2 linked regions of the Homo sapiens genome follow. The protein of the gene in region 1 purifies or fractionates together with the protein of each later gene. This does not show direct contact. Each region holds a gene or a part of one and is shown in the gene's direction. Other genes may lie near its edges. The genes, in order: DIPK2A and HADHB.

The links.
Region 2: the proteins of DIPK2A (region 1) and HADHB purify together in Homo sapiens (co-immunoprecipitation; 2 studies listed by IntAct). This does not show direct contact.

What each region holds. Positions count from the first base shown.
Region 1 is NC_000003.12:143,963,318-143,978,836, forward strand, and holds the start of DIPK2A (divergent protein kinase domain 2A isoform a precursor), read left to right. Parts: upstream 1-8,505; 5' UTR 8,506-9,015; coding exon 9,016-9,672; intron 9,673-9,763; exon of another isoform or gene 9,764-10,215; coding exon of another isoform or gene 10,216-10,245; intron 10,246-15,519. UniProt on the Homo sapiens protein: May play a role in cardiomyocyte proliferation through paracrine signaling and activation of the PPI3K-AKT-CDK7 signaling cascade.
Region 2 is NC_000002.12:26,261,723-26,276,879, forward strand, and holds part of HADHB (trifunctional enzyme subunit beta, mitochondrial isoform 1 precursor), read left to right. Parts: intron 1-1,657; coding exon 1,658-1,757; intron 1,758-8,230; coding exon 8,231-8,275; intron 8,276-11,928; coding exon 11,929-12,028; intron 12,029-15,157. UniProt on the Homo sapiens protein: Mitochondrial trifunctional enzyme catalyzes the last three of the four reactions of the mitochondrial beta-oxidation pathway.

The sequences.
Region 1 (15,519 bases):
GTGAGAAGTGAGCCATAATTACGCCATTGATACCCTCCCCACTCCCACCTCCAGTCCTCTAAAAACAATGGACACCAAGGCTTGGTTGAGCTTCCCTGGTTCCATTGCCACAAGGTTCCATTACATCTTTGCTATAAGTAAGCACTGTCCACACAACTCCACTGGGAGAAGACAACTGGAAGCTCTGTCTGGTCTCTCCTGGACCTTGCCCTATGTGCTTCCTTCTATTTAATTTTAATCTATAAGCTTTTGATATAGCAAACTATGAGTATAATAACTCTGCTGAGTTCTGTTTGTCTAGTGAATTACTAAACCTGAGGGGGGTTTTGGGGAACTGCTGCCTATCAAAGGTCATGCAAATGTCCTCTTGTTTTAAGGCTTTGTTTTTATGCACATTTGGTTACGCCACCACTCTAGAATCACTCTTTGTGCACAGTGTGGTATGTGAATTACTAGTCAAGATACATTTTTTTCCTATGTGACATTCACTTCACCTTGCATCATTCATTGAAAAGACCACCTTTTCTCACTGCATTGATGTCACTTTTGCCATAAGTCAGCTGATCTGTATGTTTTTATATTATTTTCTATTCTGTTCCATTAGTTCATCTCACTGTTTTGAACAAATATGTCTCAATTACTAATTCTTTATGATGGTACTTCGAATCCATTGAATCCTCCAGCTTTGCTCTCCTTCAAAATTGGCTTGGCTATTTGTGGCCTTTTGTATATCTACGTGAACTTTAAGCTTGTCTTTTTTTTTTTTTTTTTTTTTTTTTTAGACCAAGTCATGCTTTGTCACCCAGGCTGGAGTGCATGGCGCAATTCTGGCTCACTGCAATCTCTGCCTCCCAGGGTCAAGCAATCGTTCCACATCAGCCTCCTGAGTAGCTGGGACTACAGGCAGGTGCCACTACCCCTTGCTATTTTATTTTTTTTTCTAGATACTGCGTCTCACTATGTTGCCCAAGCTGGTCTTGAACTCCTGAGCTCAAGTGATCTGCCCACCTCGGCCTCCCAAAGTGCTGGGATTACAGGTGTGAGCCATTGTGCCCAGCCAGCTTGTCAATATATGTATTTTAATTTGCTGGAATTTTGATGAGGGTTATATTGAATTATAAATTAACATTTTTACATCTGTTATCTTTACAGTATTAAATCCAGTAATCCTTGAACACATTATATACTTTTATTTATTTAGATATTTAATTTCGCTCAATATTGACTTGTAGTTTTCAGTGTAGAGACGTACATCCTTCCTTCAATTTATGCCTAGGTATTTGAAAGGTTTAAAAATGATGCTATTATAATTTATATAACATTTGTATGGAAAACCCAAAAGAAACTACTGCAGTAGTTAATGGTGATGACTATTAGCAATTTTCCTAATTGCAAAGACAATATTAAAAAAGCAATTTTATTTCTATATGCCAACAATAGAAAAATTATAAAAAACATAGGCTAATGTTTTATTTGAAAAATATTTTTCTTTTAATACTGACTTAGAAAAATCTGTGGAATCTGAAAGTAATTTTTTCTTTGAGGTAGGGTCTTGCTCTGTCACCTAGAGTACGGTGGTAGGAACATGGCTCACTTGCAGTCTCGACCTCCTGAGCTCAAGTGATCCTCCCATCTCAACCTCCCAAGTTGCTGGGACTACTGGTGCGCGCCATCATGCCTGGCTAGTGTGTGTGTGTGAGTGTGTGTGTGTGTGTATTTATTGTTGAGACAGGGTTTCATCACATTGCCCAGGCTGGTCTTAAACTCCTGGGCTCAAGTGATCTGCCTGCTTTGGCCTCCCAAAGAGCTGGGATTATAGGCATCAGGCACCATGACTGGAGGAAAGTAATTTTTAAAATAATTATTTTCTTAGAATTTTCCCTGAAATGTCCTTTGCAATCTATTTCCAGTGTTATGTGGAAAAACAATGTAAAAATGCAATTCATTGGTAGTCATTTTGGTAGGATGATACATTCCAAAAAAATGGATAGACATACACGTTAACTATCGAATGATGTAATGATTTTTACAGAGTTTAACATTCCTTTTAGAACTCCAATAACTGTATTTATTTAACCTGCATACTGATGACTGCAATTAGGGGTCACTTTATCTTAGAATAATTAAATATATCATGATATCCTAGTTTAATCCATTAAATTGTTACTTTCAGTTTGCCAACAAGTTCTTATGGTCTGGTTATCTTATGATTAAATCAGCACAAAATATATTTCACTTATTTATAATTTTTCAAGTTTTATTTTCTAAGTAGCAGGCAAATTCTTCAAGGAAACCTAATTATAACAAAACAGTATGTCATATTTCTATTTCATTTGATGTAATTTAAATTTTAATTCCTGATTTGTCAAAAAATAATTAGAACTTTACCATTTCCCAAATATAAAAGAAAAATGTCCTGGATATCAATCTACAGAAAGGCATGAAGCTGCAAAGGACAGAGGAGAAGGTGATGATGTGTCAAATCAGATAGACCAGTGTATCAATTATAGTTCAAAGATGGAGACTCTCTTGGGTGAACCCATAATTCTACTGGCCATACTCCTTGATTAGACTACACTGGATAATAAGACATCTCTATAGTTAGTTCCCCAAAATTAGATATCTTAATTATTTGCCTATAGAGTTTTATAAGTCCTTTTGTAAGAAGAAAACAAAATGGACATTTCTGGACTATATCATTTTGAACATTAAATACACATTATATTTGATACCCAAGTGTAACACTTACCTGGCCTCTCTCTCCCAGCTGTGGCTGACCTTTAAAACTGGCACGGCCATTAGATTGAAGACTATAGCAGGTCTTTTACCTATACAAGTGGTTTCTACAAAAGGAGCCTGGTAAAGAAAACTGAGTCAGAAAGAAGGTGGCACTTTTGTTATCCGGATGAATGCTTTTGCTCTGAACAGGCAGTTGCTGTTCTCCAAGATCTCTGGCATGCTTGCCCAGAGAGAAGAGCTGTGTAGCCTCCATCATCCATAGAGGTGGCAGGAACACCATTTGCACAAGTCAGAATGAGGAAAGGTAGGAGACTTAGGATGTGAGGCTTGAGAGAAAAACAGTTGACAAAGCAGCAGCAAAATTCTCCTAGTGTACACAGCCTATTCTCCTGAGGGGAGTCATATAAGTGCAAATATAACATCTATAGCTACAGGAATTTTTTGTTTGTGCTCTTTTAATATTTATTTTATCTATTTGTCACAAACATGTAATGAATGTTGGTATGCATGTATCTGCCTCCTCCACTGGACTCTGAGAAACCACACACCCAGAATCTTGTACATGGTTGGAACTAAATAAACCACACTGTTAGAATGCATGCCAATCTTTAAAATAGACTATTGTAATGTTAATTTATACCTACATACATGACTTAATTTTCAAAAGATCTTAACAAGTGGGTACATAAGTCCCCTCTCAGTGATGTGTTAATTTTTTAAATATTTGTAAATATTGTGTTCTGTGCTGAAACAAACTGGAAAAAAACAAGTTTTAAAAATGTACTGAGCAAAAGGAAAATGTGCCTCTCTATTAACCTAGTCAATGTGGAAAACTATAACACTGCATAATATTTTGAATTAATATAAATCATGAATTATAATGTTACAGTTGCATTTGGGCTAATTTGTATTATTCTGACAAGGTCAGAAAATTATGTGATTCAATTATTTCAAGCAAAATCATGGTTTTAGTATGTATGTTTGACAATTCTATTTTTACAACCAATGAAGCCAACTGTTTGATACAGAATCTGTCCTAGAAAATACCTATGTAGAGAGTTATGGATTTAAAATACAATAAGATGTTTTAAAAATTCGGTTAAAATGCTAAACAGATTAAAAAAAAAACCCTTTAACAAAACTGGTCCTTAAGGTACCTCTCCTAACACACATAAATCAGGTAATTGAAACATAAATGGACACTGAAGAATATGGACACGTGAACTGTACTTGCATCTTCCTCATCCTTTTCCTCTCAGTCTCCCTCATCTCAGTACATGGTGCTAGGATCTGAATGGTTGTGTCAGTTGCACCCCCACCCCCTTGTGCCATAATTCATATGTTGAGCCCTAATCCTCAATGTGATGGTATCTGGAGGTGGGTCCTTTGGGAGGTGACTTGTATTCTTATAAAAGAGACCCCAGAGTGATTCCCTTGTCCCTTCTGCCATGCGAAGACACAGCAGAAACATTTATGAATGAGGAAAACACCCAACACAAAATTTGCAAGCACTTTGATCATGGACTTGCCCCCAAAACTGTGAGAAAGAAATTTCTGTTGTTTATAAGCCACTAGTCTAAGATATTTTTGTTCCAGCAGCCCCAAAGGGCTTAGACAAATGGTAATTCTTACAATAGTTTAAGACAAAAACCATGCCATAATACCTGATGCTTGCCTTTCTCTCACATTAAAATCTTGAGTAAACTTTGTTAGCTCTACGTTCACAATATATCCAGAATGTGCTAGCTTTTTTTTTTTTTTTTTTTTAACCAGCTAATACCCATCATTTCTAGTTTGGATTATTACAATAATACTGAAAGTGTTTATTCCTTCAATTGTTAATCCACCTACTACTGGAACAAACCACTTAAACCAGACACTGTTCTGGGTTCTTTAGTATACAGGAAATTATCTTTTTGGACTTTACAAAACGAATACCTCTTATCCACCCTGAATCTTACTATAGTGCACTGTCTCAGGACATGACTGCCAGAGCACTGAATATAGTCAATATGATAAAATAATTCTAATACCCAAGTAAAAAAATCATTTTCCAGGATGGGCTTCCAATGCTTTGCTTCTAAATCCAACTAACTTGGAAAACCTAATTGGTATGTCATTCAGAATATTCTGATGATAGATCACTATCGGTAAATGATTCTAGTCAAAAGGAATAAAAAGAAATGAATGAAATTGCTATATAAACATTCTTTTTATTTTTAAACATAAATGAAGATGTTTTGGCCCTTACATCTCTAAAAGCGAAGAAGAGAGAAAACTGATGTTAGACTTCGTCTGATTCTAGCAATAAATAATATTTGTTCATGGAAACCTAATTTTAAAAAAATGCCCAAGCTAATTAAGAAATACATTTCAATAAAATGTTACTTTTTATATTTATTCAAATTGGGATATTTGTTATTTTGATCAGCTGAACACTAATTATAGTTGTAATCATACAAAAAATTCCTATGTTAGCATTTAGGAGATTATGATCACAGGATATACACAAAATTTAAATACAGTTGTCTGTTGGTATATACCTGGGATTGGTTCCAGGACCCCCGGTATACCAAAATCCTCTCATACACAAGTTCTGCAGCTAGTCCTGCAGAACCTGCTTACAGTAAAAGTCAGCTGTCCTTGGGTTTCATATACAGCATATACTATATTTTTGATCCTCATTTGGTTGAAAAAAATCTATGTATGAGTACAATTCAAACCTGTGTTGTTCAAGGGACAACGGTATACACATATTTTTTGCTGCAGGAAAGGATAACCAATAAGGCTTATGCCTAAAACCGTACTATATAGAATTCTTGTTAGTCAGGGTTTCTCAACAGCACACTATTGAGATGTTGAGTGGGTTAATTTCTTGTTGTTGGGGGTTGTCTTTTGCAATGTAGGATATTTTGCAGCATCCTTGGCATGTTCCCACTAGACAACAGTAGTACCCCACTCCCTAGTTTATGAAATCAAAAATGTCTCCAGACATTGCCAACTGGCCCCTGGGAGGCAACAGTCCCTTGCTGAGAACCACTGCAGTAGAGAATAGAATAGTAATACAATGTAAAACTTTGACTATCAAAATGGATGTTAGTATCAAACTACTATGGTATTTAATTCCATCTGATAATATTTAAAACAGTGATAGTTACTGTAAAATGACATTTTACAATGCACTGGAAATTACATTATTTGCCATTACTTAAAATAATGGTCAAGAACTTTAAATGATCCACTGGTTGAAAGCATCCTGTAGTTTATAGGAAAGGTGAGTAATGCACATTAACCTTCACTTAGAGTTTTTTTTTTTGGAAACGGAGTTTTTGCTCTGTCGCCAAGGCTGGAGTGCAGTGGCGCCATCTCGGCTCACTGCAGCCTCCGCTTCCTGGGTTCAAGCAATTCTCCAGCCTCAGCCTCCCGAGTAGGTGGGACTACAGGCGTGCGCCGCCATGCCTGGCTAATTTTTGTATTTTTAGTAGAGACAGGGTTTCACCGTGTTGGCCAGGATGGTCTTGATCTCCTGACCTCGTGATCCGCCTGCCTCGGCCTCCCAAAGTGCTGGGATTACGGGGGTGAGCCACCGTGCCTGGCCCCAATTAAGAGATATTTTGCAAACCTTAATATGGCACTTTGGAACACTATATGTTTATCTTGTATAGTTCTAAGACTTTTTTCCTTTTGATGAATGTATTAAGTTCTTGAAAACTATCTCTCCTGATAAACATCTAGAAAATTTAACTGAAAAGATCAGAGCTTTTAAACAAATGTAAACTACTTAGATGCAGAGCAAATGTTTTTCAAAATTCAAATTGTGTAGACTAGTAACCGTGTTTTATTTCCATGTTTCAAATGATGCCTATACAATTCCAAGCATCTGGAGGCTGAGAATAGTTTAAGAACTCCAAAGACCTATTCGATACAAAGAAGCAGTACAGGTACCTCCTTAATCCTGTTACTAGTTACCTAAATAGTCTCACTATGCCCCGGTTCTCTCAGCTTAATCAGTTTAATGGCAACTTATGTAGTACTTTTATTGTTTTAAACCAATTCTAAATAGATTGTCTACTATTAATCGAACAAATTTATGAGGCATATAGAAAAGATGTCAGAAAGAAGAAATTTGTAGTTAAGTAATAACTTGCTTTGTTTACAATTCAGCAGCAGCAGCAGCCTCACAGCTGAACTACAGCACAGGTCTCCAGAACCATCACACCAAACTCCTTTTCCTAAGAAAATCTCACTTGAGCTTTTAACTCTATATTATATGGAGTTTGGGGATATTTGAAAGCAAGTTAAATAAAATTCCCACCAAAGGCGGCATAAGGCACTAGGCAGAAGTAGCCAAACTTAAGTACAGTAAGTCAATTTCTAGAAAGCTTTGAATATTATTTCAATTTGTCTGTCCGTATTCAATGCAAATCGTTACAAAATCACGTCTATTTTGAATTTATTAAATTTCTCAAAGTTTTTTTTTCAAAATCTGAGTTCTTATAAGAATTTGTAACAAATACCTGTTACAATTAAACAATACTGAAAGTATTGTTACTTTTGATAACCTGGTATAGATGTTTCTTATTAACCCGCTGTAGAGTTGATCTACACATGCCAGTTACCATGGTCTTCTAAAAGCACTGTTCAAGCCCTAAAATTAACTCAGTTAAGACTCAGTTGTTTAATAACGTATCAGGAACCACCTGTCCCTCAGACTAAAAATCACTTCTCATTTTAACTACTCTAGCACTAAAAGTGAATAGCATAATAATGTATCTACTAGCGCTACTGCTAAACAGTCCGGGTCCCCTGAAACTTATCCCTAAACACAGTGCTTTCGTGCGGCATCTGCGCCTTACTTTTGCAGTCTGGGGTGACTGAGTCAACGTGACCGTGCGGAGCACCAAGCAGCCCCGGGTCCCCATGGCTACCGCCAGGGCAACGCTTCGCGGCCCGCTCCTCAGGGACCCTCAGGGGCGGCACCGGGAAATCAGCTTTGCGGAGAGGAACCGCAGGGCTCCGGGGACGGGCTAGGGCAGCCGGCGGGCAGCAGAGGCAAGCCTGGCAAACTCTTCCCGGCTTCTTCGCGGCGCTTGGGGCAGACGTCCTGGCGACACCAGGCCGCGTCGGTTCCCCTTCATCCTATTTTCCCTTTAACACGGTGGCTTGAGAACTTTATTTTGTGCTCACTCAAGAAAATTTTAAATGATTTTACAGATACAACCCCAAAGATGAAGCTCCAACAAACCCGCCACTACTCGAGCCTTTCTCACCGTCTTCCTCACAGGCCCCACCCCCTACCGCGAGGAGCACGAGCTGAGGGGAACACAAGCCCCCGTCGGGCACTCCCCGGCCTCGCCCCACCCCCCAGGCGCGCACCCAACCCATATAAGGCGAGGGGAGGCAATCGCGCCAGCTCTGCCTCCGCCTCGCGCGCCGTCCAGAGGGAAGGATTTGCAATAGACTTCCTCAGTTCATTTCTTCTTATTCCCTCCTCCCTTAAAGGGCCGTTTCCACAATAGTGAAAGGAACGCACCAGTAAACCACAATAATCATAAAAGATGACTGTAATTAAGACTCTTTCTGAAACCAGAAACCGCGAGTTCATGCCCCCACCTCAAGAGCCCGAGCTTCCCCCTCTCTGAACCGCCCCCACACCCGCTCCCGCGAGCTCCCGCTTACGCTTTCCGGGCGGCGCGCGACGCGCTCGCTCCGCCCCTCTGGCCCCGCCCCCGGCTCCCCTTCTTGGTCTCAGGAGAGCCAGCGCGCACAAGCAAGGGTGTGCGGCTCTGAGACGTGCGTTGCTGCTTGTGGGTGTGAGACATCCTAGCTCCTCTTCCCCTTCCGTGAGTCCCTCCTTTCCTCGCAGACCCCACTTGTCGTGGCTGGCTGCCGCCGCAGCTCTTGTGCGAAGCCAGCAGTGCGCGTGCGCGCGGGCACGGGCGCGCGACCGTCGGGTCCCCGCGCTCCCTCCCCCTCCCGCTCCTCTATAACTTGGCTGGCGTGGAGGAGGCGCCGCCGGAGTCGGAGGGCGGGGAGCTAGGAGGAGGGAGCTCGAGAGTTGTGGAGACTAGTGACTGGGAGAAGTCGCAGCCCGCTCAGGCCCGCGCCTTCCCGCTCCCCGTCTTCCTCTCTCACACACCTACTCCGCCCTCCGCCCCAGCCCGCGCGCTAGCTCCTTCTCTCGCCCGGGGTTCCTGCCGGTAGCTCTCCGGGTCTTGGCGCGGCGGGGGCGCCCCGGGGGTGCCCTCGCCCTCCCGTTGCGGGCGGGCGGGCGGTATGTGGCGCCTGGTGCCCCCGAAGCTGGGCCGCCTGTCCCGCTCGCTGAAGCTGGCGGCGCTGGGCAGCCTGTTGGTGCTGATGGTGCTGCACTCGCCGTCGCTGCTCGCCTCTTGGCAGCGCAACGAACTGACCGACCGGCGCTTCCTGCAGCTCAATAAGTGCCCGGCGTGCTTCGGCACGAGCTGGTGCCGCCGCTTCCTCAACGGGCAGGTGGTATTCGAGGCGTGGGGCCGCTTGCGCCTGCTGGACTTCCTCAACGTGAAGAACGTGTACTTCGCGCAGTACGGCGAGCCCCGCGAGGGCGGCCGCCGCCGAGTGGTGCTCAAGCGCCTCGGCTCGCAGCGCGAGCTGGCGCAGCTCGACCAGAGCATCTGCAAGCGGGCCACCGGCCGGCCCCGCTGCGACCTGCTGCAGGCCATGCCCCGGACCGAGTTCGCGCGCCTCAACGGCGACGTGCGTCTGCTCACGCCCGAGGCGGTGGAGGGCTGGTCGGACCTGGTGCACTGCCCCTCGCAGCGCCTTCTCGACCGCCTGGTGCGCCGCTACGCGGAGACCAAGGACTCGGGCAGCTTCCTGCTTCGCAACCTCAAGGACTCGGAGCGCATGCAGCTGCTGCTGACCCTGGCCTTCAACCCCGAGCCGCTGGTGCTACAGGTAGGCGCGGAGCCAGGGCAGGGGGCGTCCTGGGAGGGGCCGCGCGTGGGAATCAGAGTCGGGAGAAGTGGCTCAGCCAGCGCTTGCCGCCAGTTCGGACTCGGCCGGGCTGGGCCAGGCTGCAGGCGTGGGAAGGGGCGTCTCCGGGGGAGCCCCGGGGCTGTGCAGGGAGGCCGAGGGCGACCCCGCTGATGGAGAGTCTGCTCTTGTTACCTAGATTCGGGCGCATTTCGGATTTGACTGTGGATCTTTCAACGCCAGAGGGAGTGCGTCTCTTAACACTCCCCAAAATGTCTCTACTGCGAGTTTCCTTCCGCTCTCTACCCTGCCTTTCTGCTTTTATCTGCCGGGGCTTGCAGGTCCGCGGCGCAGACTGTTCACGAGCCCTTGGACCTTTCCTAGTTCTTCTGAAGTGTTCTACACCGCGTTCGCTCTTCCTTTTCTGGCGCTGGTGGCTGGCCTAACTTCGGTCTCAGAGTCTTTGTTTTCGCTCATTTACCTGGCAGTCATTTGGACACCTAATTCGAGGACAAGTTGGGGAGGATGAAGTCGGAGAACGGGACAGTGGTCGGGGTGGGTTTAATCTGTGAGCCGAGCTTTGGGTGGGATTAGAATCAGAAACAGGAAAAGTAAGGCAGCGTTGGACTTGGGGCTGGGAGGGCTTAAGGCCAGACAGACGTTTTCATCCTGATCCTGTGACCTGCCCTATTCATCTGGTAATCTAGTTGAAGGGAGATGAAATATTAGGCCAGGGCGAGTATCAGGGAAGGAGATTCTTGCCTTTCGCCAGTTGCGTTGTTTGCTCTCGTCTGACTGTTTTGAAAAGTAATGTGCCTTTTAGGGGAATAGGATGGAATCTTTACTGGTGACATCAAAAAGAGAACAAAAAACAAAAACACTGTTTACTTTCGGAGTATTTGCTTGTTTCTGCACATTCCCACCCAGCTTCAGTGCGGTGTCCTTGAACAGTGATTACAACTGTGGGGTTGTGGTTTCTCCTTCTGTCTGCAGGAAAAGTTACCGTGCTCCTTTCCATGACAAGAGAAAAAAATGACTTAAAAGTTCACAAGTAATTTTGGTATACTTCACATTCTTTCTGGGTTGCTGTCACTGAGGGCTGGAGGTACAGGGTTTTTTTTTTTTTTATTTTTCTAAAATGCATGAATAGGAAAGTGCAGATTTCTTTATATTATTTTCTTTTCTCAAGCTCTACACTGCCCATTTTAGCTTTAAAAGAAACCAGCTTCGTTTGATTAGTTCAGCCAAATAATGTAACACAAATATTTGGCTTCAGATGAAACTTTAGTGTGGGTCTTAGTAAATTTTAGGACATCAGAGGCTATGTGTATTGGGTTAATTTTAAAGTCAGAGTGTGTTTTAAATACTGCTGTATCACCTAACTGAATGGATGCATAAAACTGGTTAAACTTTCCTTGAAGAAATTTTCTTTATTCAGTAGTTCCCAAACTAGTCAGTCTCTAAAGGTTTAGCCTGTATTTATGATGTACATACACTTGAACTGAAGTTTCTCATTAAGCTATCTTTAAAAGAGAACCTTGTTTGTATTAGCAAGGTTGGTTCTTGGAGATCGTGTTAGCATTTTGCTGAAGTAGATACCCGGACAAATTCTCTGAGACCCAGAAATTTAGCAAGGAGCTGTCTTAGTAATATACATTTACTGTACTTAAAATGCTGGCGTCCCTACCGAAAGATTTTTTTTTTTTAGGTAATTTTGAATAGTGATGTATTAGTAACAACTAACAGTAGAATTGATATTTTAAGAACATTATGTGGCCAGTTCTTTTTAAGTGTAGTCATAGCATTGAATTTGAGAAACTTTGGCATCTGATTTACACTAAGGTAAATTTGTGCTTTGTGCAGGAAGGTTTTATATTTTTTTAAGTTTGAACTTCTCATGGCATTCTCAGTTTACTTTGTAGTTGAGATAGTCAAGTGTGCGTGTATCTTGTTTTCTGTTTAACTTTTCCCTCAAACTTACTCTTTATCTGTTCTCATCTTTAGTGATGAAACAGCCTTTTTTGAAAAAGCACAATTATTTTCTTATATATGACACATAATGACACAGCTACTTTGAGTGGGTAAACACATGGGCCATAGGATAAGAATTTGTTTTTAGTATGTGATGAAACATGTCTCCACGTTTTAGAGTGAGGTTTGTAAATTACATTTTTAATTTACACAACCCAGTTCCCAGGAATAGTACTAATACTAATATATGTATTATAATTATAGCTGAGTACATACTGTGTAATATAATTTTGGGGTCTTTAGTACCAGCCAGTCATATAGGCATGTAATTTTTTTAAAACCTGATTAACAAGCAAGTAGAGGAAGAAGATATTTTTAAGTAAGAGTTTTCAGAGAGCCGCTGCTTTCTTTGTAGAATCACTTGATCTTTGGAAAAAGCTAGTGAATTTACAAGTCTGAACAATATACTTGAGGTTTGATGATTGTATAAAACCACCAAAATGAAAGGTATCTCAACATTCTGTGATCAAGTACAAAAGTTGCTGTACAGTAAGTCAAACCATGATGTTCATTACCTTTGTTAGCTAGGAAACTACATTTTTAGTATTTATACAGGTTTTTATAAAACTGTTTATAGCTGTTTACAGTAATACTGGGATATTAATTGATACAGAAAAACTCAGATTTGGCTGTCTATTGCTTCATGTATTAAAAAATATATTTTTAAGAGTACAAGTGTTTTAACAGCTTGAAGAGGAACTCACTTTTTTCCTCCAGGAGAGGGAGCTACTTGTCGAATTTTTGGACAGCTGGTGACAAACTAGATTTTTCTTATATTGTCCAAAAATTAACAACTTCAGGGAAAAAAAAGTCTTTGAACTGACTTCATCCAAGTATTCTTAACAAAACTTCCAGTATCGTAAGCATGCTTCAAAATAAGCATGTAAAAATTTCTTTTGATAAGGTGTTTAAGAACTGAAAAATACTTACGAATTTAATCCATTAAACTCACCTCTTCTGATTTGAAAAAACAGTAAAAAATTGAAGTTGCTATTATTCCTTGAAAGGAGAGGTGAAAGACATTAAGTGTCTAAGATGTTTACACACATACCTTATCTATGTAAGGCTGTAAAGATTTGTGATATAAATTTCCCCATATGAAATGGCATGAGAGTATGGCTTTCTTCTTATTGTTGGATAGTTTCACTAGTTTACAACAGTTTACCCATAGAATTATTATCTTCTAAAAAATGTTTATAAACATCAAGCAACAAGATAATGCTAGTAGTACCTTTATCTTCTACTCTGATACCCTTTCCTCGTCGTCACATTTTTACTTCACTAAGATGTGTGTATTTTAGTGCCAGGTATACTGTAATCCTATGAAAAAAAAAATGGAGGAGAGGAACTATGTTGACTTTTATATTGTGTAAATAGGAATCTTGAAGTATTCAAAAATTGAGTTGTTGAAGTAATTGGCAAGATCACAAGTTATTGTTGATAAATTTTCCATCGTATTTGTATTTAACCTATTGAATTTACAGAAAGGGAGAGTGTGTGTGTGTGTGTGTGTGTGTGAGAGAGAGAGAGAGAGAGAGAGAGAGAGATGCTGTCTGGATTTGTTGAAGTTCAGACAGAATCTCTGACTTTATAACCTGGAAGTAGTGAAGATGGTCTTGTTTGTAGGAAATGGAGAAAGCTCTTTGTTGTTTAGGGGGACGAGCTGGGAATGTTACTATTTGTGGAACTTCATTTGCCTTAAATTTTCTGAATCATGGTTTTAATAGGATTTACTTTATTTTTATAGTATATGACTATCATTAAGCTATGGTTTTTAAGCTTGCTTTTCTATTCTTATAAATGATATAATACATGCAAAGCACTTCACGTAGTATCTGGTAAATTGTAAGCATTCAATAAATGTTAGATATTGAATAAAGTAAAGGTAACTTTAACTGCCTGGTGCATTTGATCAGCTGTTTTGAAGCTCATTTGGGGTATGGATCACCTTAAAAATAATGGTGATTTTGAATATCAACCATACTTTAGTTATACTGATTTTTTTCCATTATTACTTTGATATAATTTTTTGTAGAAAACTTTCAGTGAATGTTGTTTTTGCCTTTAAAAGTAATTTATATAGGGAACAACATATTTTTTAAGTTCACTGGTGAAAATGTAGTTTTTGAAGTAAACAAAAGATTATTTAGCTAACGGTACTTTAGAAAAGTTGATAGATTTTTACTATTGGACTCACTTCCTTCTTTATAAAATGAAGCTATTGGATTAGATCCTTTTCAGCTCCAACATTCTGGGGCTTTCAAACTCTTGAGAAATTTGGTTTTTATTGTTGTTGTTGTTGTTGTTGTTTTCTTTTGAACTTTAACGAGTGGGTTTAATTAAGCTCTTCTGAAAGGGGATTGGGAGTGGGATGCTCTCTTTCAAGCCTTTCTTCCTACCCCCAAATTTTTACACACATGAAATAAAACAAAAACCAAAACCTTCCTTTAAGGGGAAATATGTGGAGTTAAGGGTAGCCAAGGATCTTGTGAGGCAATAGTGTGCAAAACGATGTTCCAGACTTTGTTTCAGGAGTTTCTTTTCAAACAACAGTTTAAGGAACCACCTACTTCTCCTTTACTGGCTGTTTCTTTAGTAACTGTCTTCCTAGATTTCGGCTTCAGAACACATTAGAGATGGTTCTTAGTAGAGCAGTTTTTAATCTAATAAATTTTGTAAGTTTTTGAACTTTTTGTGGCTTTTCATCTGAGAGTCCATTGACACTTTTGATTGCTCTTCAAGATAATCAAACAAAAATAATAAAACAATTTTGGATACCTCAAGTCCAAAAAGGGGGTGGGGACTTTTATTTTAGAAAGACCCTAGAAACAGACAATCGCCCTTAAGAAAGCATCACTTCAGAATCAGTAGAGCAAAGTCATTTGACATCCTGGACTAGTTTCTGGACATATCCATATCTTTTGACCATTTTGAATTTTGTCCTTTGTATACTTTTGTCTAGTCTTTGAACTATTCTTTATATTTCCATTGCATAGGTTAGCACATATTCTCACACATGTTGGGAAATAGAAAGCTTGTTTTTATAGGTCTTCTGGACATGGGTGTCCAGCTTCTCAGGGGATTGTCAGACTGGTTTTTATTCTGTTTTTTTGGTTTGTGGGCTCTGGCTTACTTCCTATTTTTCTGTCATTGCTGCTGACTCTTCACAGAATGCTATTTTTTTCTTTCTTCAGCTTTCACTCATTACCCATATGTTAAATTATGGCCTTATAATTTAAATCCTGCATTTTTCTAATACATTTGATGAACTTTAGTAAATGGTTGTAACATGACTGAAAATTATTAGTGTAAGGTGAGGTTAGTATAAGGTGATAGGAAGTTGTCTGTGAAATTCTTGAGAGCTCTTTGAATTTATAACCAAAAGAACTGAATTTGTCTGTTCATTTTACAATCTGTTACAAGGCATTTGGATTGAAAGGATGGAAAGATGGCCGTAGGAAACAAGTAGCTTACTATGTAGGAGGTAGGTACACAAATAACTAATTATTATACAATCCATTTAATAAGCCCTGTACAAAAGGTATCTATATCTATCTATCTATCTATATATATATATCTATATCTATATATATATATATATCTATATATATATATATATATCTATATATAGATATATATATATCTATATATATATATATATATACTGTCACATGACTCAGGGAGGGACATCTCATTGTATATTGATAGGAATGGTACCAGGGAAAGTTTCAGAGATTTTGCCAATAGATGGGGGTGGAGAGTGGGAGGAAGGGTGGAGGGGGCAGTATTGATAGAGCA
Region 2 (15,157 bases), on another chromosome or scaffold:
CGAGATCGTGCCACAGCACTCCAGCCTTGGCGACAGAGCAAGGCATCATCTCAAAAAAAAAAAATTAAGTCCCCTTTTTTTTCCAAAACCAGTTCTCACTTTGTTTCGGGTAGCTAGGTATTCTTAGTCTCTAAGATTCCTTTATAATCCTGTTTTCCTCTTTCCTTTCTTTCTATATCTGATTGGTTGCCAACATACCTTGTTTTCTTTTATAAACTTCCTCTTTACTCATGTTGATACTGCCTTTATCCTGGCCTTTTGTGCCACATGCTTGGGTTTGCCACAGTCTCTTTGCTTACCTCCTTGTTGCCTTTATCTCCTTCACCAGCAGCACTTCTCCATGAATGCTGCCAGCGTCATCTTTATGCCCTATTTTATCATGACTATTAACTCTCACTAATATTTCTTTAAAGTTGGTTGTAGATGTTTACTATAAATACTTCTCTGTGACATTAACAGGTGTGGTAAGGTCGTTGTTGACATTGTATTCCCAATAATTTAGGATTTTTTTCTATCTTTGATAAGGAATAATGATAGAGTAGGTAAATTCCAACATTAACAAAAACAAGAAAATAATGAACTAGATTTTGATATACTAACATGGAATGTTCTTCGAGCTATATTGTTAAGCCAATAAAATATACATAATATACAAGTATATGCATGTAAGTGCACTAAAAGAAACGATTTGAAAGTATATACACCAAATAAACAGACTTTACCTCTTAGAAGAAAATAGTGTGGTAGGCGAAGGCATAAAGAGGGAACTTTAGTTTTTACTCTCCATAGTTCAGTATTATTTACTTTTTAAAAAAAACCATAGGCACACATTTATATTTTATTCTTTAATTTAAGAAACCTAAAGGAAGTTTGCTTTTTTGAGATTAAAAAGTATTTAGGCATGTAGATTTTTGCAGAATAGCAAGTCACCAACCAAGTGCCCCTTATTTCCACGTAGAAAAGGTAAGAACATCAAGCTATGTGAAGAGTGAACAATATCAATCATTGCAACTTCTAATATTAAGGGTAGATTTGCGTGTAAATTTGGTTACTTCTAATGAAATAGGTTGTCAAACACTTAGTAAAAATGAACTATTTTGTTAATGGCATAAATTCCCTCATCATTGGATATAAGCTTTGTTTATCTTAAATATTATTTAGAAACTTACAAATGCTAGTCAATTTCTTAGCCTTTTTTTAAAAAAAAATTAAAGTGGTTTAGTAAATGGCAAATGCAAGTTGGCATTAATGATGTAATAATTCTTAGAATGACTATCTTAAAAAATGTAAAAGTAGGCCAGGCACGGTAGCTCACATCTGTAATCCCAGCAGTTTGGGAGGCTGAGGCGGGCAGATCACCTGAGGTCAGGAGTTTGAGACCAGTCTGGCCAACATGGTGAAACCCCATCTCTACAAAAATACAAAAATTAGCTGGGCATGATGGCAGGTGCCTGTAATCCCAGCTACTCAGGAGGTTGAGGCAGGAGAATTGCTTGAATCCGGGAGGCAGAGGTTGCAGTGAGCCGAGATCACGCCATTGCACTCCAGCCTGGGTGACAGAGCGAGACTCCATCTTAAAAAAAAAAAAAAAAAGTAAAAGTCATCAGACTTTATATATTTTAATTAGTAGTTTTTGTTTTTAAACTTTATCTTAAAGCTGTCCAGACCAAAACGAAGAAGACGTTAGCCAAACCCAATATAAGGAATGTTGTGGTGGTGGATGGTGTTCGCACTCCATTTTTGCTGTCTGGCACTTCGTAAGTATGACATGATCATATTATTTTTTTCCTTCTTTTAAGACACTTTCAAAAGTAGTCTTTGTAAATGTAACCCAGTAGGTAATAATATTGTTAGTGGACTAATATTTGGATAGCAGTCCCATGAAATTAATATAGAATAAGTCAAGACAGTGGTGAAATAATATGGCAACATTTGTTTTTTATCCTTCTCATGAATAAGTCTAGCGTAGTTTTACTTGAAACAGCTCTATTTTGAAAACCTAGAGGTCCAGATAGCTTGCTTCCAACAGAGCTGTCCTTTCCTTTTCTGGAGACAAGTACATTGTCCCTGTTTCTCCTCAGAAGTTTGAGTGCTGAAGATGTGGGCCATGGGCATTCTGAAGGGCCTATATAATCCACTGGTTTGGCCTCCTGGAAATTATTAAAATTGGAGTTGATAGGGCTGGTCCAAACCCCCAGCATAGCACAACCCCAAGTGTGTGGGACCAGAATGGTCCTAGACCAGCTCCAGAATTCCCTAGATCCAAATTGCTCTTCTCCTTGGCCTTTTGTGCTTCTTTTCTGTCCCCGAGTGAAGGTTAGTCTATCCAAAAGCTGATAATGGACTTTGATAACAAGGTTTAAACTGTTCATTCTATTCTGTTTAGATTGTTTTAATGTTTATATTTTGAATAGGTAGTTGCCAGCTTTAAAAAAATGCTGCGGAATGTTAGGCATCTGTTAAAAAGAATGAGACCTATCTTTATATACTAATATGGAAGACCTAAGATCTTGAAGATATGTTAAGTATAAAAAGCAAGGTTCAGGCTGGGTGCAGTGGCTCACACCTGTAATCCCAGCACTTTGGGAGGCCAAGGCAAGAGGATTACTTGAGCCCAGGAGTTCAAGACCAGCCTGGGTAACATAGCAAGACCTTGTCTCTGCAGAAAATAAAAAATATTAGCTGGGCATGGTGGTACATACCTGTAGTCCCAGCTACTCAGGAGGCTGAGGTGGGAGGATCACTTGAGCCTGGGAGGTCAAGGCTGCAGTGAGCCGTGATCATGCTACTACCTATACTCCAGCCTGGGTGACAGAGCAAGACTCCATCTCAAAAAAAAAAAAAAAAAAAAGCAAGGTGCACAGTATTGTGTATAGTGTGCAATGACTTATGAAAGATACACATGTGTGTGTGTATGTGTGTATACACACACAACAAAGGTTCATTTTTAAACAGATGGTTTGGGACCTACAAATATATTTTCTTACAGAAGTAATGCTATATGTTGGCCAGGCACGTGGCTCATGCCTGTAATCCCAGCACTTTGGAAGGCTAAGGTGGGTGGATCACTTGAGGCCAGGAGTTCATGGCAAAACCCTGTCTCTACTAAATACAAAAATTAGCTGGGTGTAGTGGTATGCACCTCTAGTCCCAGCTACTCGAGACACTAAGGCATGAGAATCTCATGAACCCAAGAGGTGGAGGTTGCAGTGAGCCAAGATCATGCCACTGTACTCCAGCCTGGGCAACACAGCGAGACCCTGTTTCAAAAAAAAAAAAAAAGAAGAAGAAGTAATGCTATAAGTAAATGGTAGTGACGTTTCTTTATTCATCCTATTTTATCAATATAGTAATCCACTTAACGATGTTTCTATAATCTCTTTCCTGTACTGACACAACAGTAAAAGTAAGAATCAGAAGGCTTTAGCAGCAGGAAGAAGATGATGTCCTCCTTTTACTCAGCAGCAATAAAATAGAAAAAGTTCCATCAAGACATGAAAGTTCTTGGCTAGGAAGACTTTTTTTGTAAGGATCATTATATATTATGTAGGTGTTTGATACTGTTTTACTAGCTGTTAAAAAATACAAACAGGCCAGGTTCAGTGGCTCACACCTGTAATCCCAACACTTTGGGAGGCCAAGGCAGGTGGATCACCTGAGGTTAGGAGTTTGAGACCAGCCCGGCCAATATGGCAAAACCCCATCTCTACTAAAAATACAAAAATTAGCTAGGTGTGGTGGTGCATGCCTGTAGTCCCAGCTACTTGGGAGGCTGAGGCAGGAGAATCACTTGAACCTGGGAGGTGGAGGTTGTGATGAGCTGAGATTGTGCCACTGTACTCCAGCCTGGGTGACAGAGCAAAACTCCATCTCAAAACAACAACAACAACAACAACAACAAAACACCCAAACATACTCAACTGTTTCATTTACTTTTATTAAACATTTGATGATTAGTATTTGCATGAAGTTTAATTTGAGGTATTTACCAAATTGGCATAGGGTTGTTCCTTTCTTTGTTGTGTATTGTGTTTTAGTTTAATTCAGGATTCTGGTTCATGAGCAATCTAGTGGTACAGAGAAGAGAAAAACATTGAGTAATGTAAGAAATGATAGTGAATAGGGAAGAAAGAATCAAAAGTATTTTAAGGCAATATTCATGTAAAGAACAAAAGTCACTAAAAAATAACATTAGAGGCCAGGTGCAGTGGCTCACACCTATAATTCCAGCGCTTTGGGAGGCGGAGGCGGGAGGATCATTCAAGGCCAGGAGTTTGAGACTGGCTTGAGCAACATATGAGCAACATAACTAGACACCTATCCCCAACGCCTCCTCACCCCCTACCTCCCAGTCCTATCTCTACAAAAAAAAGAAAAAAAAAAAGGTGTTTTAATTAGCCAGGCATGGTGGTGCATGCCCCTAGTCCTAGCTACTTGGGAGGCTGGGGCGGGAGGATTGCTTAAGCCTAGGAGTTTGAGGCTGCAGTGGGCTATGAACGTATATGAGCTATGCTATTGCACTTCAACCTGGGTGACAGAGCCAGACCTTGTCTCTTAAAAAAAAATTAATAATAATAACATAGAGGGAAAATGTATAAGGACAACAATTTTTACATTATTGATGTTAGGATTGAAGTACCAAATGAGTCTTCTGTAATAGAAGATCATTTTCTAAGTGGAAAAAGTCTTTTTCTGTTTAATTTGCAGAAACGTTGCTTTCAACTTGAGTGTTATTTGGAAGGCCAGGTTCTTATGGGTAGGGGCATTTGGGAAGCACTCCCGGGAATAGACTCTAGCAGTGGAATTCAGAAGTCTGTCAATCATTCAGGTAGAGGAGTGTGAGAGTATGAGAATAAAGATTGTAAATGATAAGTTGGCTGGGCGCAGTGGCTCACGTCTGTAATCCCAGCACTTTGGGAGGCTGAGGCGGGCGGATCACCTGAGGTCAGGTGTTTGAGACCAGCCTGGCCAACATGGCGAGACCCTATCTCTACTAAAAATACAAAAATTAGCCAGGCATGGTGGCGTGCACCTGTAATCCCAGCTACTTGGGAGGCTGAGGTGGGAGACTATCTTGAGCCCAGGAAGCACGTTGCACCACTGCACTCCAGCCCTCCAGCCTTGGTGATGGAGTGAGACACTCTCTCTCAAAAAAAAAAAAAAAAAAAAAAAGGATTGTAAATGATAAATAATTTATGGCTTAGGCATTTTCAAATTGACACATGACTTTTCCCCAAATAATTCTGTCCTAAATTTGAGGAAACTGGATTTACCTATGAAAAATTTGGAAAACTACTCATGGTTCTCCTGTGATTCTGAGTGAAAATGACAGTAAAAATATTTTGGAGTTTTTAAGTTTTAATTTTCAGGGACTTGAAGAATGAATCTTCTTATTTAATCCAATGATTAAATCTCTGACTTAAAAATAAAGAGAATTTATTTTTGATCTTTAAACAAACAAACAAATAAATAGAGTTCATACCCAGATCTTGGTTTCTAAATAGCAGTCTTCAATACAAAGAACCAGAGCTCCTTTGAAGAATGATTAGGGCTGAGCCAGAGAAAAGACAGGATGAGCAAGGAGAACTTGTAGTGCCGGAAAGCAAAGAAGTACTTAAAAAAAAGAGGGGTTCAGGGGGTCATGTCAAAAAGACACAGGTCTGACCTGCAGGAGCTACCGGTCACCAAAACTGCAATGATTTGAGCAATAAAATAAATTGCAATAGTATTGGAACATAACCCAAAGAATAAAACAAATGCCTACGAGTCTAATCTGATATAAATAAGTGAATAAATAAATACACATTGGGAGGCCAAGGTGAATGGATCGCTTGAGGTCAGGAGTTCGAGACCAGCCTGGCCAACATGGTGAAACCCCTTCTCTACTAAAAATACAAAAATTAGCTGGATTTGGTGGCAGGCGCCTATAATCCCAGCTACTCAGGAGGCTGAGGCAGGAGAATCGATTGAACCCGGGAGGCAGAGGTTGCGGTGAGCCGACATCGTGCCACTGCACTCCAGCCTGGGCAACAGAGTGAGACTCTGTCTCAAAAAAAAAAAAAAAAAAGAGTAAATAAATGAGAAAGAATGAACAAGTCTTCCTTACAGAAGAATTTTGATTAATAAATATAGGAGGACTGTGTACAGTGGTTCACACATGTAATCCCAGCACTTTGGGAGGCTGAGGTAGGAGGATTGCTTGAGGCCAGGAGTTCGAGACCGGCATGGACAAAGTGAGACTCCATCTCTGCAAAAACTAAAAATGAAAAATTAGCTGGGTGTGGTAGCAGACACCGGTAGTCCTACCTACAAGGGAGGCCGAAGTGGGAAGATTGCTTGAGCCCATGAGTTTGAGGCTGCAGTGACCTGTGATTGCACCACTGCATTCCAGTCTGAGTGACAGAGTGAGACCCTATCTCAAAAAATAAAAATAAATAAAGAATGAGAAAAATAACCATTAGAATACCACATAATACTTGCTGCGAGATCTACAAATGAATGCTAAAATTAGGTGAAATGCTAAGAAGAAACAGAATATTTGCATAGTCTCAGAGAATCTCCCCCAAAATATTTATCAATTACTATGATGATTTCGACATACGTCCGCAAAGTCTGTGTTATTCCTGCCACTGGAAGGTGGAACTTAATTCTCCCCTCAGAATGTGGGCTAGACTTAGTGACTCACTTCTAACAAATTGAGATAAGAAAGGAAAAAATAGTAACTTTATAGTGGAGTAAACTGGCAGACATCACTTGACCCAAATCATCACTTTAACATCACTGGTAGTAAGTCATGTTGATATCATGTGCCCCCTGATACGAAGCTAAGAGAAATACAGTTTACCTCTGTGATATTCTTCCCCTAAATCCATAACCCCAGTCTTCAAAAGTGTCAAGGTCATGAAAGACAAGGAAGACTGAGAAACTGTCACAAATTGGAGGAGACTGAGGAGGCATGACAACTAAATGCAACATGGTATCTTGGATTGAATCTTGGAACAGAAAAAGGACATTAGTGGAACAACTGGTGAGACTCAGATAGGTAGTAGCTTAGTGAATAGTATTGTGCCAATGTTCATTTCTTAGTTTTAATAAGTATATCATGGTTATGTAAGATGTCAGTATTAGAAAAAGCAGGGGAAGGCTGGGCGCGGTGACTCACGTCTGTAATCCCAGCACTTTGGGAGGCCAAGGCGGGCAAATCACCTGAGGTCAGGAGTTCAGGACCAGCGTGGCCAACATGGTGAAATCCCATCTCTACTAAAAATACAAAAAAATCAGCTGGGCGTGGTGGTGGGTGCCCGTAATCCCAGCTATTCGGGAAGCTGAGGCAGGAGAATTGCTTGAACCCTGGAGGTGGAGGTTGCAGTGAGCTGAGATTGCGCCATTGCACTTCAGCCTGGGCAACAAGAGCGAACCTCCGTCTTAAAAAAAAAAAAAAAACAGCAGGGGGAAAGAGGAACTCTGCTCTCTTTTTCCAATTCTTATTTATGTATTTACACAGGGTCTTGCTCTGCTGCCCAGACTGGAGTGCAGTGGTGTGATCCTAGCAGCCTCAAATTCATGGCCTTAAGCAGTCTTCTCACCTCAGCCTCCCAAGTAGCTAGGACTACAGATCCATGCCACCACGCCTGGCTAATTTTTAATATTTTTTGTAAGAGACAAGGTCTTGCTTGCTCTGTTACCCAGGCTGGTCTTGAACTCCTGGCCTCAAGTAGTCATATCACCTCAGCCTCCCAAAATGTTGGGATTCTAGGTGTGAGCCACCATGCTTGGCCTCTTTCCAATTCTTTGGTAAATCTCAAGTTACTTAAAAGCAAAAAGTTTCTTCAAAAGTCCTAATACATCACCTGTAGCCCTGTAGGCATTACAAAATAAATAAATAATATACTTTTAAAATAAAATGTTTAAAGGAAAAGAGACCTCAAAGGTGGGGCTTCACTTTAAAGAAAATTTAGCATATGTTATACTGAACATTAAGGTGTTGGACAACATTTTTGTTCGATTCTTAGCAAGCTCAGGAGGAGTTAAGGCTTGCTAGACTTTTAAGGATGACAAATAGCGAAGTCACACTATTTCTTCATTTGAAATGATGGACTGCCTTGGATAGTAAAGTTAAGTGTGTTTGTAGCAGCATGTGTTTGATGATCTCTGGGTATTTCAAATAGAATGAAAATTTTTCATTGAAGCTCTAGGGTTTTGGTTTAAATTACTGGTTTTCGTTCCCCAGATATAAAGACCTGATGCCACATGATTTGGCTAGAGCAGCGCTTACGTAAGTAAATGCAGTTTCATTTCCGTTCTTATTTCATTAAAGGCACTTTCTCCAGTTTTTACACATAAAATAGCAATTTGTTCTTATTTTAGCCATCTGTACTATACAAATTTAAGCAGCTTATGAATATTGTCAATCTTTATTTTGCAGGCCTAACAGTGTCTTAGCCTGACAGTATACTTTAATGCTACCTTAGCTAGCCACAGGACTCGATTGATCAGCCTAAACACAATACATATATTTGATGATTGCCTTAGGAACTTGTATAAGGGTAGCTGAACAGATTATGTAGATATTTACCTAGAAAGAAGCCTAAAAGACACCTGAAGATTCATGTGCAAACCAAGTAAAAATGTAAAATTAGATGTAGTTAAATAAGATTAGGCTGGATGAATAATTTGGTTGAGAATCATTAAATGTGTTGCTGTTTCATAACATGTAAGGCATTATCTCTTCATTTTCCACTGACACTTTGCCTTTGTGTCTTCAACCAGCCACAGTTCTTTCTTAGTTTGGAGAAACCCTTCAGTTGACCTTTCTGTCCATTCTAACTCTATGTTTGTTTTTTTTTTCTTCCTGCAATACCTCAAGCATGAGTGAAAGAGCAGTTGTTTCTGTTTCCTTATTATTAGTTTCCTCTGTCTAATTGTATAATCATTATTTCCATTTTCCCTTTGTTTTACAGAAACCATACTTTAGAATCTTCTCTTAATAATGGTTTTATGATTGCTCAATGTACTGATCCTTTCTCAGTCCTCTGTCTCTGTACTTTATAGCACTTGACACTGTAAGCTATAATCACCTCTCTTCTGTTGACTTCTTAGTAATATGCCTTTATGATTTTTCTTTTTCTTCTGTATCCTGACTGATTCTTCTGTAGCTTTTTTTTTTTTTTTTTTGAGACGGAGTCTCGCTCTGTCACCCAGGCTGGAGTGCAGTGGCGTGATTTCGGCTCACTGCAAGCTCTGCCTGCCGGGTTCACGCCATTCTCCTGCCTCAGCCTCCCGAGTACCTGGGACTACAGGCGCCTGCCACCATGCCCGGCTAATTTTTTTTTTCTTTTTTTTTTTTGTATTTTTAGTAGAGACGGGGTTTCACTGTGTTAGCCAGGATGGTGTCGATCTCCTGACCTCGTGATCCGCCCTCCTCGGCCTCCCAAAGTGCTGGGCTTACAGGTGTGAGCCACTGCGCCCGGCCGATTCTTCTCTAGCTTAAAAAAAAAAAACTGGGCCAAGCACGGTGGCTCACTCCTGTAATCCCAGCACTTTGGGAGGCTGAGGTGGGCAGATCACCTGAGGTCGGGAGTTCAAGACCAGCCTGACCAACATGGAGAAACCCCATCTCTACTAAAAATACAAAATTAGCTGGGCGTAGTAGCACATGCCTGTAATGCCAGCTACTTGGAAGGCTGAGGCAGGAGAATCCCTTGAACCTGGGAGGCAGAGGTTGCAGTGAGCCGAGATCACGCCATTGCACTCCAGCCTGGGCAACAAGAGCAAAACTCCGTCTCAAAAAATAAAAATAAAAAACCACACACACACACAACTGGATCTCTCCCTCTTTCTCTTTTTGAAAGGTGTTTTGCAAGTTTCATTCCTTAGAGCTTTGCATTTCTCTGTATGCATATTTTCCTTTAAAAATCTCATCTACTAGCTAGGCATGGTGTCTTACACCTATAATCCCAGCACTTTAGGAAACCAAGGCAGGAGGATCAAGGTAGGAGGATCTTTTGAGCCCAGGAGTTTGAGACCAGCCTAAGCAACATAGTAAGACTCCATCTCTACAAAAAAAAATTTTAAAAATTAGCCAACCAAGAGAATTCAGCTCAGGAGTTGAAGGTTGCAGTGAGCTATGATTCCACTACTAGACTCCAGGCAGGGCAATCGAGCAAGACTTTGTCTCAAAAAAAAAATTTTTTTTAAATTTTTAATTTATTTTTTTCTGTATGGAGTCTCACTCTGTCCAAGGCTGGAGTGCAGTTGCTTGATCATAGCTCACTGCAACCTCGAAGCCTCCCAGGTAACTGGGACTATAGGCGTAAGCCAATGTTTCTAACCCTCTTTTTAGTTTTTTTAATTGATAAAAAACTACAGATTTTACAGATTTTTATTTATTTATTTCATTGTAGCCAAGTTTAGTCATTACTCATTTTGAAGCTCAGCTTATTCCACATTTTATCTGGCACTCCTTCAAGTTGGCTCCTGTGTGCCTTTTGTTTTTTAGTATAATGCTGGTTGTTGATATATAATTTGCATGCAATAAAGTGCACAGATTTTAAGTGTATAGTTTGATGAGTTTTGACAAATGTATATACCCCGTGTTCCTGTTTTTGATATGGTCCCATTTGTCTTTTTTTTTTTTTTTTGACACAGAGTTTCGCTCTTGTTGCGCAAATTGGAGTGCAGTGGCACGATCTCGGCTCACTGCAGCCTCCGCCTCCCAGGTTCAAGCAATTCTCCTGCCTCAGCCTTCCGAGTAGCTGGAATTACAGGCACATGCCACCAGTCTTGGCTAATTTTTTTTGTATTTTTAGTAGAGACGGGGTTTTGCTGTGTTAGCCAGGCTGGTCTCGAACTCCTGTCCTCAAGTGATCCGCCTGCCTCGGCCTCCCAAAGTGCTAGGATTACAGGCTTAAACCACTGTGCCCGGCTGATATGGTCCCATTTGTCTTTGAGTGCTTCCTTACTTTTGGCACAAAAAAGATGGAAATTCACTTTGTACTTTCTTCTGGACCTGGTATCAGTCATTTCTTAAAAAACCTTTTGTCCTTTTAATGGGGAATGGCATTTAGAAACCAAATCTGGGGCCGGGTATAGTGGCTTACACCTATAATCCCAGCACTTTGGGAGGCCAAGGCTGGTGGATCACTTGCAGTCAGGAGTCCGAGACCAGCCTGGCTAACATGGTGAACCCTGTTTCTACTAAAAATACAAAAATAAGCCAGGCATCATGGCAGGCGCTTGTAGCCCCAGCTACTCAGGAGGCTGAGGTGAGAGAACCACTTAAACCCAGGAGGTGGAGGTTGCAGTGAGCCGAGATTGTGCCAGTACACTCCATCCAGCCTGGGTGAAAGGGCAAGATTCTTATCTCAAAAAAAAAAAAAGGAAACCAAGTCTGGGTTCAGGGAGTGCTCATTCCTACTGGAGTGTTATTGTGTCTAGTTTCTATTCATGGGCACAACTAGAATATATGTATTATTTCAATCATTTGTTGATACTGATATTTCAAACTAAAATTTAACATACCCAGGACTTCTTTTTTTTTAATTTTTTTTAATAGTCTTAAGGGAGACTTTGCTTTATCTCTTTGATTGAATATTTGTCTCTCTTTTTCACTGCAAACTTTGGTTTCTACTAACATTAATTAACATTAATTTATAGGTTTCTTATCTATTTTATTCTATTCCAAATTATTTTTTATTCTCTAACTTCTCATTACCAATTCAGCATCAAATGTTGACTTTTAAAATCACTCTTTCATTCATTTCTTCTTTGAGAAGGTGCCAAATGCTTGTCAAATTAAAGAAAAGATACAGTCTCTGTCCTTTTAAATTCAAGGCTAACCTTTTTCAAGGAGCGCAGTGTTTTGTGTGATGATCTCTGGCACTGCCTTGATGTGTGAAATGTTTCTTTGCTTTGGATTTCTACTTCCAGGGGTTTGTTGCATCGGACCAGTGTCCCTAAGGAAGTAGTTGATTATATCATCTTTGGTACAGTTATTCAGGAAGTGAAAACAAGCAATGTGGCTAGAGAGGTGAGTAAAACAAACTTTATGTTGTTTAAAGAGTGATAGGAGAATCACTTTGAATTTCAATTAATAGAAGTTACTTTACAAAAGCCTTTAAAATCTATTGAGTTACATTTGACCTAAAATGTGATTTTACAGCTTGGGTAATGTGTTATTTAATATGTAAAAGAATTCTAATATAAATCAAATGACATACACTATATTAGTGTATATCCATACTTTACTGTAAATCAAATAAATTATTTGAGCTGGTTTAGGACATTGTCTCTTGTGTTAGGAAAATAGAGATCAGCAAAGTGTGGCTGATAGTATTTTTAGTAATGTTAGATATCATGGCTTCCAATTAATTTAAAATTTCAACATGTTGCAGAGAACTAATTTCATAACTTGACTTTTGTTAGCTGGAAGTAGCCTTGCTTACTCATTTGTTCCCATCAACTAGATGGCACGTAAGGCAGCTTGGCTTTTTAAAAACTATTTCACAGGAGTTTACTTTTGCCCTAGTTGGCATAGCTCCATGTAGTGTCGATTGGGCAACCAAGATAATGACAGGCCTTGGAACTTCTAGGATGTGTCCTACAGGCAAATCCAAACACGTCTTCTGGGCTGTGTTTTCATTTAAAATCGATTGGATGAAGTTGGCACCAAAAGCACATTTCATTGTACTCAGTATTTTCCCTAGTTCTGGTCTGTGCTTGCCATATTGTTGGGTTCAGTATCACTGTCAACTGAGAGACAAGGGCACATGAGCAGGACTGAAAGTATTTGTTCTGTTCCACCTCTGTACCTGGCAGAAATGTTAGAACTGCCAAAGGCCTGGCATGACTGAAGCCTACGAAACTAACTGTGTGCTGTTGAGGGGCAGGAAGGAATTAACAATAGGAAGAGATTTTATTTCCCTTCTGAAATTTTTTGTTTTTCCTTGAACCTTGACATTTCTGAATGTTTCAAATATGATAATTTCATGAGTACATCAAGCTGCTCATAATACATTTTCAACTTTTATATTCTGAAAATAACCTATTACTTTTATAAGAGCACTTAAGATGTAAATAGTAAATTTTTTTGCTGTTTTCTCCTCTTGCTCAGCTTTTTATCCCATCCTTTCTTCCTTCTCCTCCTCCTCAAAAAATAAAAAAATAAATAAATAAAAATAAATGTTTCCATTTTCTCTGTAATTCAGTTCTTTTTTTCCTAAAACTAAAGCCATAATGTTTTCCTCTGAAATTTTTCCTGGAAATTTTACATCCATTTGCAGATCTCAGCTATTGATTGACAGGAGGTAGATTCCCTCTGCCTGCCCTGTACTAATACCAGTTATGTTGTGCTCCAGGTAATTTTTGCAGCATCTGCAGGGAGAGATTGGGTTGAGGGGGATACATTATGAGAATGTCACTCTAAAGCTGTATTGCAACCTAAAAGCTAACATAATTTCCAGCCAAAGAATTTCTTAGGCCCTATTGCCTGTATTAATAATGTTAATATACAGTCCTTGCAACCTAAAAGCTAACATAATTTTCAGCCAAAGAGTTTCTTAGGCCCTATTGCCTGTATTAATAATGTTAATATACAGTCCTAAAAGGCTCCTGGTGTTCATGAACCTGACTTTGTTGAAAGGTTCAGCATATTTCCCTGTTCTCCAGCTTAAAGACATCTTCCTCCTTTTCCCTTAGTGCCCTGAGAGCTATTCAAATTTCAATAGAAGTGTGTGGACAAGGGTCACCAATAGCCACCTCTATTTAAAGCTCCTTCCGTCCTGAGAGTCATCTAGGGCCAAGGGCAACACAAATTAGAAAGGCCCTTGTGAGAATCGAGCCATTGCAACCTAAGTGCCCCTTTTACACTTGCCCTTTGCAGAGCTCTTCCCTCCTGCCCCCCTGAGATACTTGCGTCTCTCTTCCTTTCGGATTGGTTTACGTTGAGAGGCTGATGCACAGGTGCCTGGCAGAAGTTCTCAACAAAGCAGGTTGGGCATTTAGTATCAGGCCTACCTGGAAAGACCAGAATGAGGTCATGTTGCAGTTACATCACTAACACATTTCTGTTTCTATAGATTATGGTAAATAGCATAAAAGTAAGTAAGTATAAAGGTAAAAATCAGTTAAGAGACATTGAATTTCTAATTGAGACTTTGGAAACATTTATTTTACTAAATTATAGGAGAGTGTGTTCTGAGGATAATTAATAGTTTCAGGGAAAGAATACTAAAAATGAATTCCCTATAATGGGATCCAGTATTTCATAGTAAATATTGTGTGGGTGTGTATGTGGGAGGAAATCTGGAAGCTTTATTTCTAAAGTAAAACTTTAATATTATAAAAATAAGTATTTTATAATTGCACCTGTGCATTAATTATTTACATAAACAAAAATGGAATCAGACGTTGATTGGTTTTTGACAGCATAATTTCCCCCAATAAATAGTATAATAAAATTATAGATGTGCTCATTTCATGTTTGACTTTCACTGTGCCATTATAATAGAGGCCATTTTTAAAAGATTAATAATGACCTCAGTTTTTCTTAAAGCCGCTCAGATGACAAATTATTCTCTTTGTATCACGTATTATGCCATCATCCTGGCCACTTGTTAGTTGGTCTGACCCTTATTTGTTCACAGACTCACTTGTAACTCAGGCAATTCTCCAGTTTCTTTCATTGAGTTGAGCTTCTGTATAGTTGGCAAGTTTTCCAGTTCATCTTTGCATTGGGTCTGCAGTGTGCTATCTGAAGTATCAGACGGTCAGTAAGAGAAACCAGCTGGCAGTGAGCAGAAAGATAGGTGTAAAGCAGACAGGGTCTTGAGTGGGAACTCTGTTTATGAAGGGTCAGTTCTTTAGAAATCATTTTCATGTTTAATCACTTTTGCTTTGCTGCTAAGCTTTGTGACTGATCATGAGACCTGATAACACAGATAGTGAGGACTCCACCCCATAATATATTTCATCATCATTCCAGCAACTGTCTTTAATAGGTTCTTTTAAGTATATTTGAACATTAAACAAGTTAAAATCAAATTATATATTGATATTCTTGAAGGCCCTGAGCAAAACATCGATAAGAAATTAGGTGAGTTAGGAGAGTATCATAGCCTCGTGTCTGCACTAGAAACCAGCCAGCAGGAATTTTGCATAT